2 separate regions of the Homo sapiens genome follow, and region 2 is linked to region 1. The links come from fine-mapping of genetic effects on gene expression. Tissue or cell type: whole blood. Region 1 holds a variant in brackets; the other region holds the start of a gene. All regions are shown on one strand. Distances are between the middles of the regions.

Region 1 (8,106 bases):
GGCCACTACACTCCAGCCTGGGCAACAGAGCAAGACTCCGTCTCAAAAAAAAAAAAAAAACAAAAAAAGAAAGGGAAAGTCAAGGGAAAGTCACCTCAGGTGTCATTGTTCTGTTGCAGCATATGGTGTTCCTGACAGATCCCTTGTCTTTCTGGTTCTTGGTTTTCTCATATGCAGAATCTTGTTATGAACAAGTTGTGTTGAAAGTTCACATTCTTTAAGTATGTATGTTGGTCATCTCTGTTGAAAATGATAGAAAAATCACCTTCGGTAGAAAATTTACAAACAGGCCGGGTGCAGTGTCTCATGCTTGTAATCCCAGCACTTCAGGAGGTGGAGGCGGTTGGATTTTTGAGCCCAAGACTTTGAGACCAGCCTTGGCAACACAGTGAAACCCCATCTCTACCAAAAATACAAAAATTAGCCAATCTCACAGCCCAGTCTCAAAATAAATAAATTAAATAAATAAATAAATAAAGTTTCAAAAAAAGAAAGCAAACTTACAGACACAGTTAAAGAAAAGCTGTACCATTTACAGGGTGGCGTTCAGCTATCTGGAGCAGTCCCTTATGGTGGGTACTTCATTTATCCTGGGGAGATGCTGGATAATGAGTTCGTTTTAGACCCTTTGCTCTACCTGGCTTTTCCTGGGGTGGCTGCTTGGTTGTGCTGAAACCCTCAGAAATCAACAGTAGAAAACTTCTCTAAAACAGCTTTGGCCTTTTTGCATATGAATGACTTTTACTGCGTAAATCAGTTATTTTGCTTACCATCCTAGTCCTCTGCTTTCCACCCCAAATCCTTGTTTATGTGTGTGTGGTTTTGTTTGTTTGCTTGTTTGTTTGCTTGTTTGTTTTTTGAGACGGAGTCTCACTCTGTTGCCCAGGCTGGAGTGCAGTGGCTCGATCTCAGCTCTCTGCAGCAACCTCCACCTCCCGGGTTCAAGTGCTTCTCCTGCCTCTGCCTCCTGAGTAGCTGGGACTACAGGCGCGCATGCCACCATACCCGGATAATTTTTGTATTTTTAGTAGAAATGGGGTTTCACCATGTTGACCAGGCTGATCTTGAACTCCTGACCTCAAGTGATCCACCCGCCTTAGCCTCCCGAAGTGCTGGGATTACAGGTGTGAGCCACCACACCCCGCCTGCGTGTTTGTTTTTTAAATCTCTCTTCTTAGGGTCATGAGATTTCTCATTAATTTCACTTAGAGCTCCTGGAGAGAAAAGCCTCTATTATTGTCACTATAACAGTAAAAAAAGTGTAGAGATTTTTTTTTTTCTTTTGAGACAGAGTTTCGCTCTTGTTGCCCAGGCTGGAGTGCAATGGCGTGATCTCAGCTCACTGCAACCTCCACCTCCCGGGTTCAAGCGATTCTCCTGCCTTGGCCTCCCAAGTAGCTGGGATTACAGGCATGTGCCACCACACCTGGCTAATTTTGTATTTTTAGTAGAGATGGGGTTTCACCATGTTGGTCAGGCTGGTCTTGAACTCCTGACCTCAGGTGATCCACCTGCCTTAGCCTCCCAAAGTGCTGGGATCACAGGCATGAGCCACTGTGTCCAGCTTTTCTTTTTCTTTTCTTTTTTTTTTTTTTTTTGAGACAGGGTCTCTTTCTGTTGCCCAAGCTGAAACAGTGACACAATCATAGCTCACTGTAACATCAAACTTCTGGGGCTCAAGCAATCCTCCTGGCTCCGCCTTCCAAATAGCTAGGATTACAGGTGCACATCACCATACCCAGGTAATTTTTTCTTTTTTTACACGAAAATGTCTCAACATGGATTTTTTTTTCTTTTTTGGCAGAGATGATGTCTCACTATGTTGCCCAGGCTGGTCTCAAACTCCCTGCCTCAAGCCATCCTTCCACTTTAGCATCCCAAAGTGCTAGGATTACAGGCGTGAGCCACCGCACCTACCCCCAAGAAAGCTTTTTTTTTTTTTTTTTTTTTTTTTTGAGACAGAGTCTTGCTCTGTCAACCAGGCTGGAGTGCAGTGGCGCGATCTCAGCTCACTGTAACCTCTGCCTCCCATGTTCAAGCAATCCTCCCGCCTCAGCCTCCCGAGTAACTAGAATTACAGGCACATGCCACCACGCCCGGCTAATTTTTGTATTTTTAGTAGAGAGGGGGTTTCACCATGTTGGCCAGGATGGTCTCGAACTCCTGACCTCAAGTGATCCACCTGCTGTGGCCTCCCAAAGTGCTGGGATTATGGGCATGAGCCACTGCACCCGGCCCCCAAGAACTCTTCAAATGCACCTAGTGTCACAAGAAAAGATAGTTAAACTGTGTCTGAAAAAGTGGCTTATGTGGGGAAATTTGTGATGGATTTAGGGAAACTTAGGGTAAATTTTAAACATAAGGCCTTTTGTCAGATCACCTACATTCCTCGGATTGTGCGTGGGTTTGTCGCAGGTGCTTGATGTGACAAATTACACAGCTTCTATTGCTTCATTTGATCAGCCGCCTGTTGACTTTCAGCCAAGTCCTGCAGGGTTGCTTCTCAGATTGTATCTTTCTGCAAGACAAAGATGTTTTCATAGTCTCTCTTTAACTTCTCCCTTTTGTGGCTATTAATTTATACTTATATGTTTTTCAACTCCTTATTTTTGTTTTCTCTTTATAAAAGTTTTAACGTGTGCTATTCTTGAGGGAAATACTGATGCATATCTAAACTTTAGGGGTGTTTTTCACCCTGGCTACAGACACTCGGTAAATAATTTTTCAGGTGATGGGAAAACACATCATCATGAGAATGTAGCAACTTTTATTTTGCAGTAACTGTTAAAATTGTGGCCACAGTGCTCAGTAAAAGGGGACCTTCCCCCTGTAGGTGTTTGGGGAGGAGTGACGTCCTGTCCTCCATTTTGTTAGTAACCCACTTATGGATGGGGCATTATCACCTAGAAAGAAAAGAGATACCATGGTATGCAGTTACAGGGAGCCAGAGCAAGAGCAAGACAAAGAAATTCCCTTACGTCTTCAATGCAGAGCCGGCATTTAGACCTCTACCCCAGGCAGGACCCACAAATCTTTGGCAGCCATGAGCACCTGTTTTGCTCCTGCCTTCTTCCTGTTGGCAATTTTGGGTTTTGGGGTTTTTTTTTTTTAGACAGAGTCTCACTCCATCACCAGGCTGGAAGTACAGTGGTGCAGTCTCGGCCCACTGCAGCCTCCGCCTTCCGGGTTCAAATGATCCTCTTGCTTCAGCCTCCCAATTAGCTGGGACTACAGGTGCGCACCACCACGGCCAGCTAATTTTTGTATTTTTAGTAGAGATGGGGTTTCACCATATTGCCCAGGCTGGTCTCAAACTCCTGACCTCAAGTGATCTGCTCACCTCAGCCTTTCAAAGTGCTGGGATTATATATATATTTTAAATAAATGAATAGAATTCATCACCTAACTTCTAAAGCTACCTCTGTAGATGAAATTCCGGCACTTAGGAGTCAGCAGTGGTGTATTGAGTGCATAGCCCTTGCTCACAGGTGCTTCTTTCCTGTCCCATGGCAGGTGGCACCAACAGAAGGTTTCTGCAAGGCTGAGAGCTCCTTTTACCCATGGACCAGGAGCAAAGTTTGCAGGTACACTGTCAGGCTGTGTTTGGATGTTAGCAGTTAATTTAGCTCTGCGTCTTCAGAGCAATTATTCTTAGCTACTTAAAAAAAAAAAAAGGAAAAAAATGACACCCATAAAGCATTTGCTGCTCCATAGGATGGGAGCACACTCTGTTGTTGGGCATATGAGTCCCTCTGGCATGTGTTTTCTATGTTTATTGTTGTCAGGGCTGTCCCTGTAATTTCCCAGAAGTAGAACTCCCTGAAGCTGTTTCCCAGAAAGGACAGGGGTGTAGATAATGGATGTCCAGAGACAGAGAACACTGCAGTGCCAGATCCCTGTGCTGCTTTGTCAGACATTTGTTTATATATTGTTTGTTTTTGAGATGGGGTCTCACTATGTTGCCCAGGCTGATCTTGAACTCCTGAGCTCTCAAGTGATCCTCCCACCTCGGCCTCCTAAAGTGCTGGGATTACAGGCATGAGCCACTGTGTCCAGCTGTTATTATTATTATTATTTTGAGACAGAGTTTTGCTCTTGTTGCCTAGGCTGGCGTGCAATGGCACATCCTCGGCTCACTGCAACCTCCGCCTCCTGGGTTCAAGCAATTCTCCTGCCTCAGCCTCCCGAGTAGCTGGGATTACAAACGCCCACCACCATGCCCAGCTAATTTTTGTATTTTTAGTAGAGACGGGGTTTCACCATGTTGGCCAGGCTGGTTTCGAACTCCTAACTTTAGGTGATCTGCCCACCTCGGCCTCTCAAAGTGCTGGGGTTACAGGCATGAGCCACCGTACCTGGCCCCAGCTGTTATTATTTTTAATTGATACCTAATACTTGATATCTAATACATATTTTATTGATACCTAATACATATTTACAGGGTACACTGGGATATTTTGATACATGTTTACAATGTATAAGGATCAAATCAGGGTAATTAGCATATCCATCACCTCAAACATTTATCATTTTTTTGTGTTGGGACATTCAAAATCTGCTGTTCTAGCTATTTGAAAATATACAATAAGTTGTTGTTAATTATAGTCACCCTATAGTGCTTTAGAGCACTAGCACTTATTCCCCCTATCTAGCTGTACTTTTATTAACATTAAACAACCTTTAGGCTGTGTGCGGTGGCTCATGCCTGTAAACCCAGCACTTTGGGAGGCCGAGGTGGACTGATCACCTGAGGTCAGGAGTTCAAGACCAGCCTGGACAACATAGCAAGAACCATCTTAAAAAAGAAAAGAGAAGAATATTTAAAATTTTCTTCACTGATCATTCAGGAGCATATTGTTTAATTTCTGTGTATTTGTACAATTTCAAAAGTTCACCTCGCTGTTGAGTTCTAGTTTTATTCCA[C/T]TGTGGTCAGGAAAGATACTCGATATAATTTCAATTATTTTAAATTTGTTGAGACTTGTTTTGTGGGCTAACATATGGTCTATTCTGGAAAATGTTTCTTGTGCTGATGAAATAATGTGTTTTCTGAATCTGTTGGATGAAATGTTCTGTAAATGTCTCTTTGTTAGTCTAAAATGCAGGGTTTTTTGTTTTTTTGAGAGAGTCTCACTCTGTTGCCCAGGCTGGGAGTGCAGTAGCATGATCTTGACTCACTGCAACCTCCACTTCCCAGGTTCAAGCAATTCTCGTGCCTCAGCCTGCCAAGTAGCTGGGATTACAGGTGCCCGCCACCACACCCAGCTAATTTTTGTATTTTTAGTAGAGACAGGGTTTTACCATGTTGACCAGGCTGGTTTTAAACTCCTGGCCTCAAGTGATCCGCCCACCTCAGCCTCCCAACGTACTAGGATAACAGATGTGAACCACCGCGCTCAGCCTAAAGTGCAGTTTAAATCTAGTGTTTTGTTGTTGATTTTCTGTCTAGATGATCTGTTCAGTGCAGAGAATGGGGTGTTGAATTCCCCAGCTATTGTATTGGTGTCTATGTCTCCCTTTAGATCTAATAATATTTGCTTTATATTATGTATCTGGGCGCTCCAGTGTTGGGTGCATATATATTTAGAATTGTTACCTCCTCTTACTGAATTGATCCCTTTATCATTATATAATAACCTTTTTCTTTTTTTTAATCGTTTTTTACTTGACGTCTGTTTCATCTGATACAAGTACAGCTACCCTGCTTGCTTTTGGTTTCTGTTTGCATGGAATATCTTTTTCCACCCTTTCAGTCTATGTGTGTCGTTACAGATGAAGTGAGTTTCTTGTAGGCAACCGTAGTTGGGCCATGTTTTTTAATCCATTCAGCCAGTCTATATATTTTAAGGGGGGAAGTTTAATAAGTTTACATTCAAGATTATTATTGATAGGTGAGGACTTCTGTCATTTTGTTAATTATTTTCTGTTTTTTTAAATATATCCTTTGTTCCTTTCTTCCCCTCTTATTGTTCATCCTTGTGATTGGTGGTTTTCTGTAGTGGTAAAATTTGATTCTTTTCTCTTTCTCCTTTGTGTATGTGCTCTACCAGTGAGTTTTCTACTTTTTTGTGTTTTCTTGATAGTAATTATCATTTCACTTCCAGATGTGGGACTCCCTTGAGCATTTCTTATAAGGCTGGTCTAGTGGTGATGAATTCTGTCAGTTTTTATTTGTCTGAGACATGTCAGGCATTTAGCTTCAGGACCTGATTCTAGTTCCCTGCCCTGTGGCAACAAGTAGAAACAGATCCCTGGTACCCTGCTTAAGTATTACACCAGCTAGATGTGAGCAGATGAGAAAATCAAATCCTTCTATTTTGCCAGGGATTAATTCATTCTCAGGATTGTAAATATTACATTTCACCTTTCACCTCACAGAACTGTAGAATTAGGAGGTGAGCTGGGCAGCCTGCCCAGCAAGACATTATGATGTATACAATACAGTGCACTACTAAGGATGTGTCTTTAAAGGCATTTACAGCACACAGTTTTTTTTTTCCTTATAATTTTGCTGCTCTTTATTTGTAGTAGTAGATAAGGAATTAAGAAAGCAAAAATGAGTGCTTTGACTAGGTCTTTTGCCTTTGAAAGTAGCATTAGTAAAATCCCCTCTTCTTTTTTATTCTTATAAAATTTACCCAATTCACTCTGTCCCCCAGCCCATCTGTGTTCACTTGCTGTTCTTGCTGCTCTCAGTTTTTAAAAGCTTATTCTAAAATTACATCAAAGCAACCCCATTTTGACAAAATTAGAATTCTGGTAGGAAACGCTTGCCATGAGGCTGTGGAGAGAGGCCCAGCAAGACTTTTGTATTTTATTTCAACCTCTGTCGGTTAAACCTACAATTCGGCAGATGATATAATTACCTCCCTGGGGCAGGTCTCTATCTCTGCCTTGGAGAAATAGCAAAGTCCAAAGTAGTCTCCTCATTCAAAGATGTTGCAAACGAAGGCTGTTTTGATCTTTATGTATTAGCATTTGGGTGTTAATCTTTCTGGAGCTCCTGACAGAAAATTCCTTTAAATTTATTATATAATTCTAAAATATTGGACATATTTGTTTCAAGCATCTGTCAGTATCCTTACTCTTTCCATTTCACTCCCCACTGCCTTAATTAGTCATCAGGTCCTACTGATTTTTAACTCCTAAGCATTTCTCAAATCTGTCTCCTCAGTATGTATTGTTGGTTATATAACTCCATCTCCATTTTCACTGTGCTGCTTTAGACTATCTTTTCTTGTCTAGATTAGTGCCTGGCTTATATTATGGGCTTCATAAAGTGGGATCAATGAATGAATGATTCATAATCTGGACAACTGCACTCTAACACCTAACTGGAAAAAAAAAAATCTTAAGATCTATCTTCCATGTAAAAGCATCTATCTAAAATGCAAATCTTACTTTGATAATCTCCAGGTTAATAAACCTCTTAGACGGCTCTCAGGCCTCCCCAAAACCATCTCTCATTTCACTGATCAAAAAAATAAAAATTTAAAAATTTTAAAACTTAAAAAAAAAATTGAACATTTCACTGGTCAAAAAACAAAAACAAAAATGATCTCCGAGCATGCCTCCCTCACACCCCACCCTGCTGTGCATCCCTTTCCCACCCCCAGCCTACAGAGACCACCCAATAACCTCTTCTTTGCTACATGACCCTTACCCTCCTTCTTCAAGAGTCATACTTTCTCCTTAGAAACTTTTCCCCCCACTTTCTGGAAACTGTAGATTCTTTCTTGCTTATGGTTTTTGTAATGACATCAGCCATTTAGAATTCATGATGTGGCCAGTCTCTGCTATCTGCCTCTCCACAGAGCTTGCTCAGATAATCCATCAGGATTTAGTCACAGATCCAAAGTAGGGAGCTAGAAGGGAGCTTCAGGCTTGGTCTCTTCGGGTTGAAGCTAGAAAACTAATCTATACTGAACACAAAAATGAAGCTGAGTAATAGCCAACCTATACATCCTAGGAATTAACTATTGCTTATTTTGCCCCCAGCCAGTCTCTCCACACTCCTCTCTCCTTTACATTTGTTTTAAACACTATATATATATATACACTTTATTTATATATATATACTTTTTATATATATATATATATAATATGTGT
Region 2 (8,106 bases), 96 kb before region 1:
TTCCTCAAGTGGTTTTCCCAAGTGAAGCCTTAATATTTCCAAGTCAAGCTGCCTTCTTAAAAGAAGATACAGAAACTTAATATGATCTTGAAGGTCATGCCTATTAAATTTAAGAACACTACTCCACAAGAAAAAAGTAACTGTATAATATGTGGCAGGAACCTCTATAATCAAGCCTTATTCAACAATGCAGCTCAGTGAATGTGAAAAACCCTAGGAGTTTTTTGCTCTATTAAAAAAAGGTACCAGAAGACACAAATTTGAAGGGTGTTTTATTTCTCATATCCAAAGTATTAACTCTTCTCTCATTTCTCTTTGTACCTTCAACATAATGATCACTCACAATTATCCATTCATTTCTAAGTTAAGAGCCTTTGTAGAACCACTATGTTTTTCTTAAATACTCACTTTCCTCTTTAAATGTAGTCAATATATTATCAAAGCACTCAAGGTTAATCATAAAAAACCAAGCAATGTAAATCTTCAAAGGCTTACTTTGCACTTTACAAACTTCCAACTAGAGTTGAAAAGAATGCCATCATTGTACCTAACCTGCATTTACTTTAACAGTCTGACCACAAAGGTATTTCTTCTCTGGGCTGAAGGACCACTGAAGTTGTGCAAAACCCTTTTCGGTTACAATGAATTACCAAACATGTGAACGAAGAAGCACAAGACAGTAAACTTCTATCCGGGGAACGTCTATCCTAATAATAGAATTTTATTATGTACAGGTTTCCATAGTTGCCATGATTTCAAAATAGTACCAAAAATTACATGAAAAATATTTAAAAACAAGATAAACAAGGCTTCATTAGATTTCATAGTACAATGATGGTTTTACTGTTAAATGAAAACAATTCACCCTTTCCTAGGAAACATATCAGCAGTAAGATAAACAAAAAAATTAAAATTTATACCTCAATCTGCTTATATCAGTTCCCGCCGGGGTAACTTAAAAGCAGCATTAGCATTACGTTAATCACTTAACTATAGCTTCGGTTAAAAAAGGCATGTGTTTCAACCTTCATATTTTACAGACTAAGAGAACTCAGAGTAGTAAACTGACTTTCTCAGACTCACACAAATTGTATGCTAAGACCAGGTGCGGTGGCTCACGGCTGTAATCCCAGCACTTTGGGAGGCCAACTCAGGTGGATCTCTTGAGCCCAGGAGTTAAGAGACTAGCTTTGGCAATATGGTGAAACCCCTTCTCTACAAAACACAGAAAAAAAAAATTGGCCCGGCGTGGTGATGCAGGCTTCCAGTCCCAGCAACCCGGGAGGCTGAGGTAGGAGGATCGCTTGAGACAGGGAGATCAAGGCTGCAGTGAGCCGTGATCACGAGCTGCTGCACTCCAGAGCTGCTGCACTCCAGCCCCGGGCCATAGAGTGAGATCCTCTCAAAAAAAAAAAAAAATTGTATGCTAAGCCTAGACTCTTGACCACCCCCAAGCCCTACTCAGTGCCATTTCCACCGCTCCACACATTTCGCTTTGGATACATTAATTATATGTTATTTTCTTCCCAACATCCAAAATAATACTATTGATTTAATGCTTTATCTGTTTTCAAAAACAAATTTTTATAATCTGATTTAAGTATCTTTCCAAAATGCCTGAAGACATTTCATGATGCTGCACAAAAACCCAAGCAAGATTTCTAGCAACGAGGTACACTGATCGAATACATCGAAATATCAGTTATAATATTCCTGTTTCCAATTTCCACAACAGAGTTGGCTTTGAACTGAAACTTCCTAAGAAAAAACCATTTCCTTTATTCACACTTCCAAGTTACATTTTGAATATTTCAAATAGCTCGGCACAAAAATCTAAAGTAATAGCTAACACCGTAACAAGACTGAGAGAAAAAGTTCCTTTTTTAAATGTGTTGCAAAGTTTGCTCTCACATCCTGGTAACTGGAAACTGCAACGCTGGGTGACTGACCAGCCTTTTTTTTTATTATTTAAAAATTCAAACGGCTATAAAGGGCTTCTAATGTGCGTCTTATTTTTAAAAGGTAAGGTAAAAACCCTTTTAACCTAATAGTAGGATATATGTGTACAGTTTCGTAATTCTGTTAAAGTTTGCAGAATTAATCACAATTCATGTGTTAAATGTTTAAATAACATCTAAGTCATTAAAACCGCTTAAGTGCACCAAAAAAGGGCAATAACGTTTGCTCCGCTTTGTTTCCTTAAAGTCTCCATCCAACTGAAGCTAACTACTTGCTGTGGACAAAATGATCACATTCCTTCTGCCTCCCCCTAACATTTCTGGTAAGAGAAAGACCTGGCTCTAGGAATGTGTGTTTAATGCAACCCTGAGCTCACTTCATCCTTTCATGGGGCAAATGTGGAATAAATTACCAATGAAAAACTTTAGTAATTTTAAGATTTGTTTTACTTGAAGGTAGGGGTGTACCAACAGCTGCCAACACTTCTGTTGAAGTGTTGTAACCGAAGAGGTAAAAAGTGTACTGAGTAATCCACAAAATTGGGTAGAGCAAAGGATGCACGCCATGCTTATAAAGAGTTTAATTTTAAAATTTTTTAAATTAAACCTTCAAGGGAACTAGCATGTGAACGCCAAGGCATAATCTGTTATTTAATTACGGGTCTCCATAGGACCGAGGCGGAGAGAGCTCCCGGTAGAACCGACGCAACCATCCCGGGATGGTGACCAACGCGCGGCTGCTGCGGGCAGAGGGACTGAAGAGAACCGGTGGTCCCGACGCTGGCCCCGAGCCCGAGGAGTTAAACTAACAAAGAGCTCCCCGAGCCGCGAAACCCCCCAGAGCGGAAGCGACGCCTCCCCGCCGCCGCCGCCGCGCCGCGACCCTCCCCAAGTTCAGGGCCCGGCAGTGGACTCGCTGCGGGGCCTGCGGCCAGGACGGCGCCGGGTTCGCAGTCGGGATGCGGGAAACAGGTAGAGGCCAGAATACGAGCCCCAAAGAGAAGAGTGGGCGCTTCCCCAAACGGGTCGGCGCAGCGGAAAAGGCTAACTGAAGCAAGCGGGAGGCCCCGCACCGAGGCCCTGCTTCCCGGGGAGCAGCCAGGCACAGCGGACAGGGGGGCCGCGCTTTGTTACCGGCTGAGAGAAGCTCCGGCCGCCGCCGCCGCCATCGCCCCCGCCCCGGGGCGTCGCTTCCCGGCGGTTCTCGCCTTCCTCGGCCGAGTAGTCGATCTCCCCCTCCTCGGTCTTGAGACGCTTGGCCTGGCTCTCGTACTCCCGGTCCTCCTCGTACGTCTCCCTGGGGGAGGAAGAGGAGGAGGACATGGCGGCGGCCGGAGGGACCGGCTGGCAGGCGGGTGGGGGTGGCGGTGGGGCGCGCGCCTCGGATGCCGCCGGCCAGTCCTCGCCGCCGGCAGCGCCTCTTCTGCGAGGGTCTCCGCGGCCCGGCCGTCCGCGGGGACTGCGCGGCCAGGAGACTGGCGGCTGAGAAGCGCGGACGGACTGAGGGGGGCGCCCCGGGAGGAAGCTCTGGAGCGGCCGCTCCTCTCAATTACCGAGCCAACATTCAGCCTCTCCCTCCTCCTCCTCCGTCTCCGCTCCCTGCCCGGAGGAGCGAATCTAAGGATGGGGACGCAACCGTGGCTTCCGGTCTTCCCTCCTCCCCTAAGCCGCTCCCAGCCGCGCAGGCCGAGCCTCCGCCCCCGCCTTCGCGGCCGTCGCGCAGGATCGAATCCAGCCGCAGCCTGCGGGAAGCGCCCCCCCCGGCCCGGGTTCTGCTCCCTATTGGCAGGGGCGGGAAAGTCGACCGGGCTTCCCATTGGCTGTGAGGGCCGTTCGTCAAAAGCCGCCCGCTGCTCGACCTCACTTCTCTCCCCGCGCCTTCTGAACTCGCCGCGGTCCTGGGAGGCCCGGCGCGCAAGGCGCGCCGCCTGGGAGTAGTTGCGACCCGCAACCGTTGGCGCTATGCGGCTCCTACCCGAGGCCAGGCGTGGAGTGAACACGGACGAGCGACGAGAAGTGCGGAGAGGCTAGGGCTGCGGGTGTTAACCGCCCTGCCGCTAATTTAAATGCTTTTTATCACCTCTTAAAAAGAGAATGAGGAAAAAAACCTCTAAAATCCCTGCAGTCATACCCCCCGAAAAGCCCTAAAATTGCAGGCGATGAAGGGAGAAAACGGCTTGGAGCCATGAGAATGGTCTTTCCACTGTTTTGTGTGCAAAATCTGGTAGAAGTGGGCGGACCCTCCCGCCCCTAGCTGGGTGTTGGAGAACAGCTGTCAGCATTGACTGAAGGCTGCGAGGCGCGCGTCGGCAGGAGGCGCTGCACGCGGGCGCTCGTCGGTCTGATCGGTTATAACTCGTTTGTAACCTGGGCCCTTTACTGACTTGCCTGTCCCTGTAAGTCCCTGCTCCAGTTAAATATGTTTTAATCCTTCCATATAAAATCTCATCCTCCATCCCAATTCTTTCTCTTCTGGACAATGTATTTACTTCACTTGATCATTTATTGTCGAAAGATACAAAAGCCTTTCAAAGTTCTGTGATCACAGCTTGCTTCCTCTGTGGTGTCCTGAGGGCTTTTCCAAGATTTTAGTTGCTGCTCTCTTTTTGCAACAGGGCCCCTTATAACTCCCTCTTAAGATGTTCTGTTTTAAAAACTCTGTGAGCGCCTGAAGACAGGAACTGTGTGCAATTTTCATTTTCGCAAGCCCAGTTCCTGTGCGATCTCCAGCACAATTTAGGTGCTCAACAATGCTGAATGAGTAGTCCTTGGGAAATAAAGGTCCAGTGTATCTTTCAGGACAGAAACTGGCAAATCAAGGCAACCTAACTGCCCTCTGTCAGGTGCCTCTTGGAGGACTGCCTGAGATCAAGAGCCTCTTGTGTTTCTGTTGTCCTTGTCCCTCGGATGCTTTCCTAGATGTGGCTCTTCCTTTCCTAAGAGTGTAGATTGCTTCCTCCTCCAGCCTAGTTCTCTCCAAAGTTATTTCCTCCTCCAAAAAAGCTATTTTTATTTATTGCTGAGAGTGCTTTAACATAACACTTTTGTACTTTGTAAATTACACCGGCTGTCATTTTGGAATCTAATTGCAAGATTTTCCACACTATGCAGCTATAATCAAATGTGTGTGCGGCTGCAGGTATACATTGACAAAACAGAACTAAAAAAATTATAAATTTATTTTTTAAATTAAAATGGAAGTCGACAGAAGAAATAGCAAAAGAGTGGCAGAGCTGGCTGCGGATGAGAAAATGTCATTGGCAAAAAGCTCTGCAATGGTTTGGGAAAGTAAAATAGCAACAAGGGAAACAATGATACAATTCTGCTTAAAATATGTCCTATGGATTCATATGTCCCCTAACATATTCAGAATGCAGACATTACCTGGCCTTCAGAAAGCTGAAGATACCAAGGGTCAAAAAAAAGGTCTAACAAACCTACTTCACGTGTTATCTTTAGCATCCATTGTCCTTTTTATAGCAGTCTCAGTATCAAAGATCAGGAAAGGATGAGTGAATTAATAAACTTGATACAAAGGAAACTTCTTTGATGAGGTGAGATGGGCCATTCTCAAGATATTTTTAGTTTGCTCAAATTAAAAGAGAAGAGCTGAGAGCTTAAAACAATTATTTTTTAGGAGAAAGAAAACAATAGAATATTATGTGAAATAATTGAGTGTGATGAGAAGCACTAAATATCTTTTTGTTAAGTATGAGCAACTACCTGTTAATTTTGTTTTATGTACATTTTCATATGCTAGGTGAATTTAGTTTGGTAAATTCTATTCACTCACAACTGGATTTACTAGGCCTTATACAAACTTTCCAAATATTTCTTGTGAAGATGCAAATATTTTAAATTCTCAAAGCCCTGCATTCAACCTATGGATTATACCACATTACAATGCAACTGTCACACCAATGGGTAAGGAAATCCAGCCTTGCCAAACCTAGGGCTGCTGTGCTCAGCGTTCACAAACAGCAGGTGGAATTCAATATGTACCAGTATTAAACTTTGTTCTTTTTGTAAGTAGCCCAGTTGAGTAAAAAAAAAAATATTGAGGGAGTAAAACTTAGAAAGCATTTTTAAAGGACACCAATCAGTTCGTTAACCATGGGTGAAATGCGAGCTTGTTGCAGATGAGTTGTTCAGACAGTGACAGTAGGTCCTTTGATAAGGAAAATACTAGCTAGCTCATCACCAGGGCATGAGGAGCTAAAGAGAGAGGACATAAATTATACTCTACATTATTTCACTTAGGTGAGACAAAGAAATTACACACTGCCCAGTAGCCAGAAATACCTAAGAAAAGCAGAAACAGCTCCTAAATGCCATGACTGTCTGGAACCTCTCATGCATTACGGCCTCAGACCTTTGACTATTTTCTGAACATTTGATTGAATTCGCTGCTGTCAAGTAGGCAGCAGCCAAGAGCTCCCATTGCCACAGCTCAAAGGGGACTCCAGCTATACTGGAGTAGGAGACAGGCTTAGGGCAGGCCTAGGGAAATTGAGAGTCAAGGGCCTTTATAATCAATCCAGCCTCAAATTGCCCTTTAGTTTTAAATCTCGTTACTGATCTATAAAATTTATAAGACATTGTGCTAGGTGATGAGAGGACTACGTGAGCTGGTCCCTGCCCTCTCAAAGCTTGCAATCAAGTTGTGGAAACAAGGCTCATACCCAAGAGATAGGCTACAAGCATCCATATGTAATAATACATATACAATAATTAATAGCCACATTTAATGTGCCAGTCACTGTGCTAACCACTGAAAGGGTTTTGTCAATAAATTCTGACAGAAGCCTTCTACCAGAGGCATTATTATTACTCTTCCCAGTATACAATTAAAGAAACAGTCTAGGGGAGATTAAGAAACCTGCCTTAGGCTGGGCACAGAGGGAGGCAGAGGCACACAGATCACTTGAGCCCAGGAGTTTGAGACCAGCCTAGGCAACGTGGCAAGACCCTGTTTCCACAAAAATTGTAAAAATTAGCCTGGAATGGTGGTGCGTGCCTGTAATCCCAGCCACTCAGGAGGATGAGGTGGGAGGATTGCCTGAGCCCAGGGAGGTCCAGGCTACAGTGAGCCGTGACTGCACCACTACACTCTAGCCTGGGTGTTGGAGTGAAACCCTGTTTCAAAAAAAAGAAAAGAAAAAAAAGGAAACCTGCCCTAGAGCTGCAGTTAATAAATTGAAAAGCCAGGACTGGAACCCAAGCAATCGGGTTCCAGAGCCAGTACTCGTCATCAGAAGACTGATGATTTAATTATTGTGTTATTTATTACCATGGACATACAGATCTAATTTATAGTCACTTATTATATAATGATGCTAATTCATTCACTGATTTCTCCTTTTTATTTATTTCTTTATTTGAGACAGGATCTCACTCTGCTGCCCAGGCTGTGGAGTGCAGTAGCGCAATCATAGCTCACTGTAGCATCTACCTCCTGGGCTCAAGCAATCCTCCCAACCCCAGCCTCCCAAGTAGCTGGGACCACAGGCACATACCACCACACCCAGCTATTTTTTGTTGTTGTTGTTGGTAGAGACGGGAGTCTCACCATATTGCCCAGGCTGGTCTCAAACTCCTGGGCTCAAAAGATCCTCCTGCCTTAGCTTCCCAAAGCATTGGGATCACAGGCATGAGCCACTGAACTCAGCTTCATTCACTAATTTATACCTGGGTTTATGTAGCTATAATCCTGGGAAGGATTGAATACGTTATAGTTTTCATCATTTGCATTTGTATAAGGAAATTCAATTTACTTCCACAGGAAATTACAAATATAATGCACTGTTTTAGTGTTAATTTTTTACTTTTTTTATTTTTATTTTTTTAGACAGGGTCTTGCTCTGTCACCCAGGCTGGAGTGCAGTGGCATGATCTAGGCTCACTGCAACCTCCGCCTCCTGATTCTTGTGCCTCAGGCTCCCAAGTAGCTAGGATTACAGGCTTGTGCCACCATGTCTGGTTAATTTTTGTACTTTTAGTAGAGATGGGGTTTCACCATGTCGGCCAGACTGGTTGTGAACTCCTGGCCTCATGCAATGCACCCACCTCAGCCTCCCAAAGTGCTGGGATTACAGGCATGAGCCACTGTGCCTAGCCTTCAACTTAATTTCTGTAGAAAAAGCCCAGA

What was found. PIP is the estimated chance that this variant, and not a neighbour inherited with it, causes the effect.
Region 2: it holds the start of HNRNPLL, and the variant in region 1 is fine-mapped to the expression of HNRNPLL in whole blood (INTERVAL, PIP above 0.99).

What each region holds. Positions count from the first base shown.
Region 1 is chr2:38,694,853-38,702,958 of GRCh38, forward strand. The region is part of intron 4 of GALM (galactose mutarotase); the gene reads left to right. It overlaps LOC124905993 (a long non-coding RNA gene), which reads right to left. Exons shown (of 3, transcript XR_007086292.1): 2 at 2,385-2,518. Among named protein-coding and RNA genes, the nearest start is that of GALM, 33 kb to the left of the region's middle. The variant C/T (reference allele first, on the strand shown) is at 4,924.
Region 2 is chr2:38,599,346-38,607,451 of GRCh38, forward strand. HNRNPLL (heterogeneous nuclear ribonucleoprotein L like) reads right to left here and starts at 3,583. Exons shown (of 13, transcript NM_138394.4): 1 at 3,093-3,583. The coding sequence starts at 3,281. RefSeq lists silencers at 3,303-3,402, 3,423-3,472, 3,693-3,762.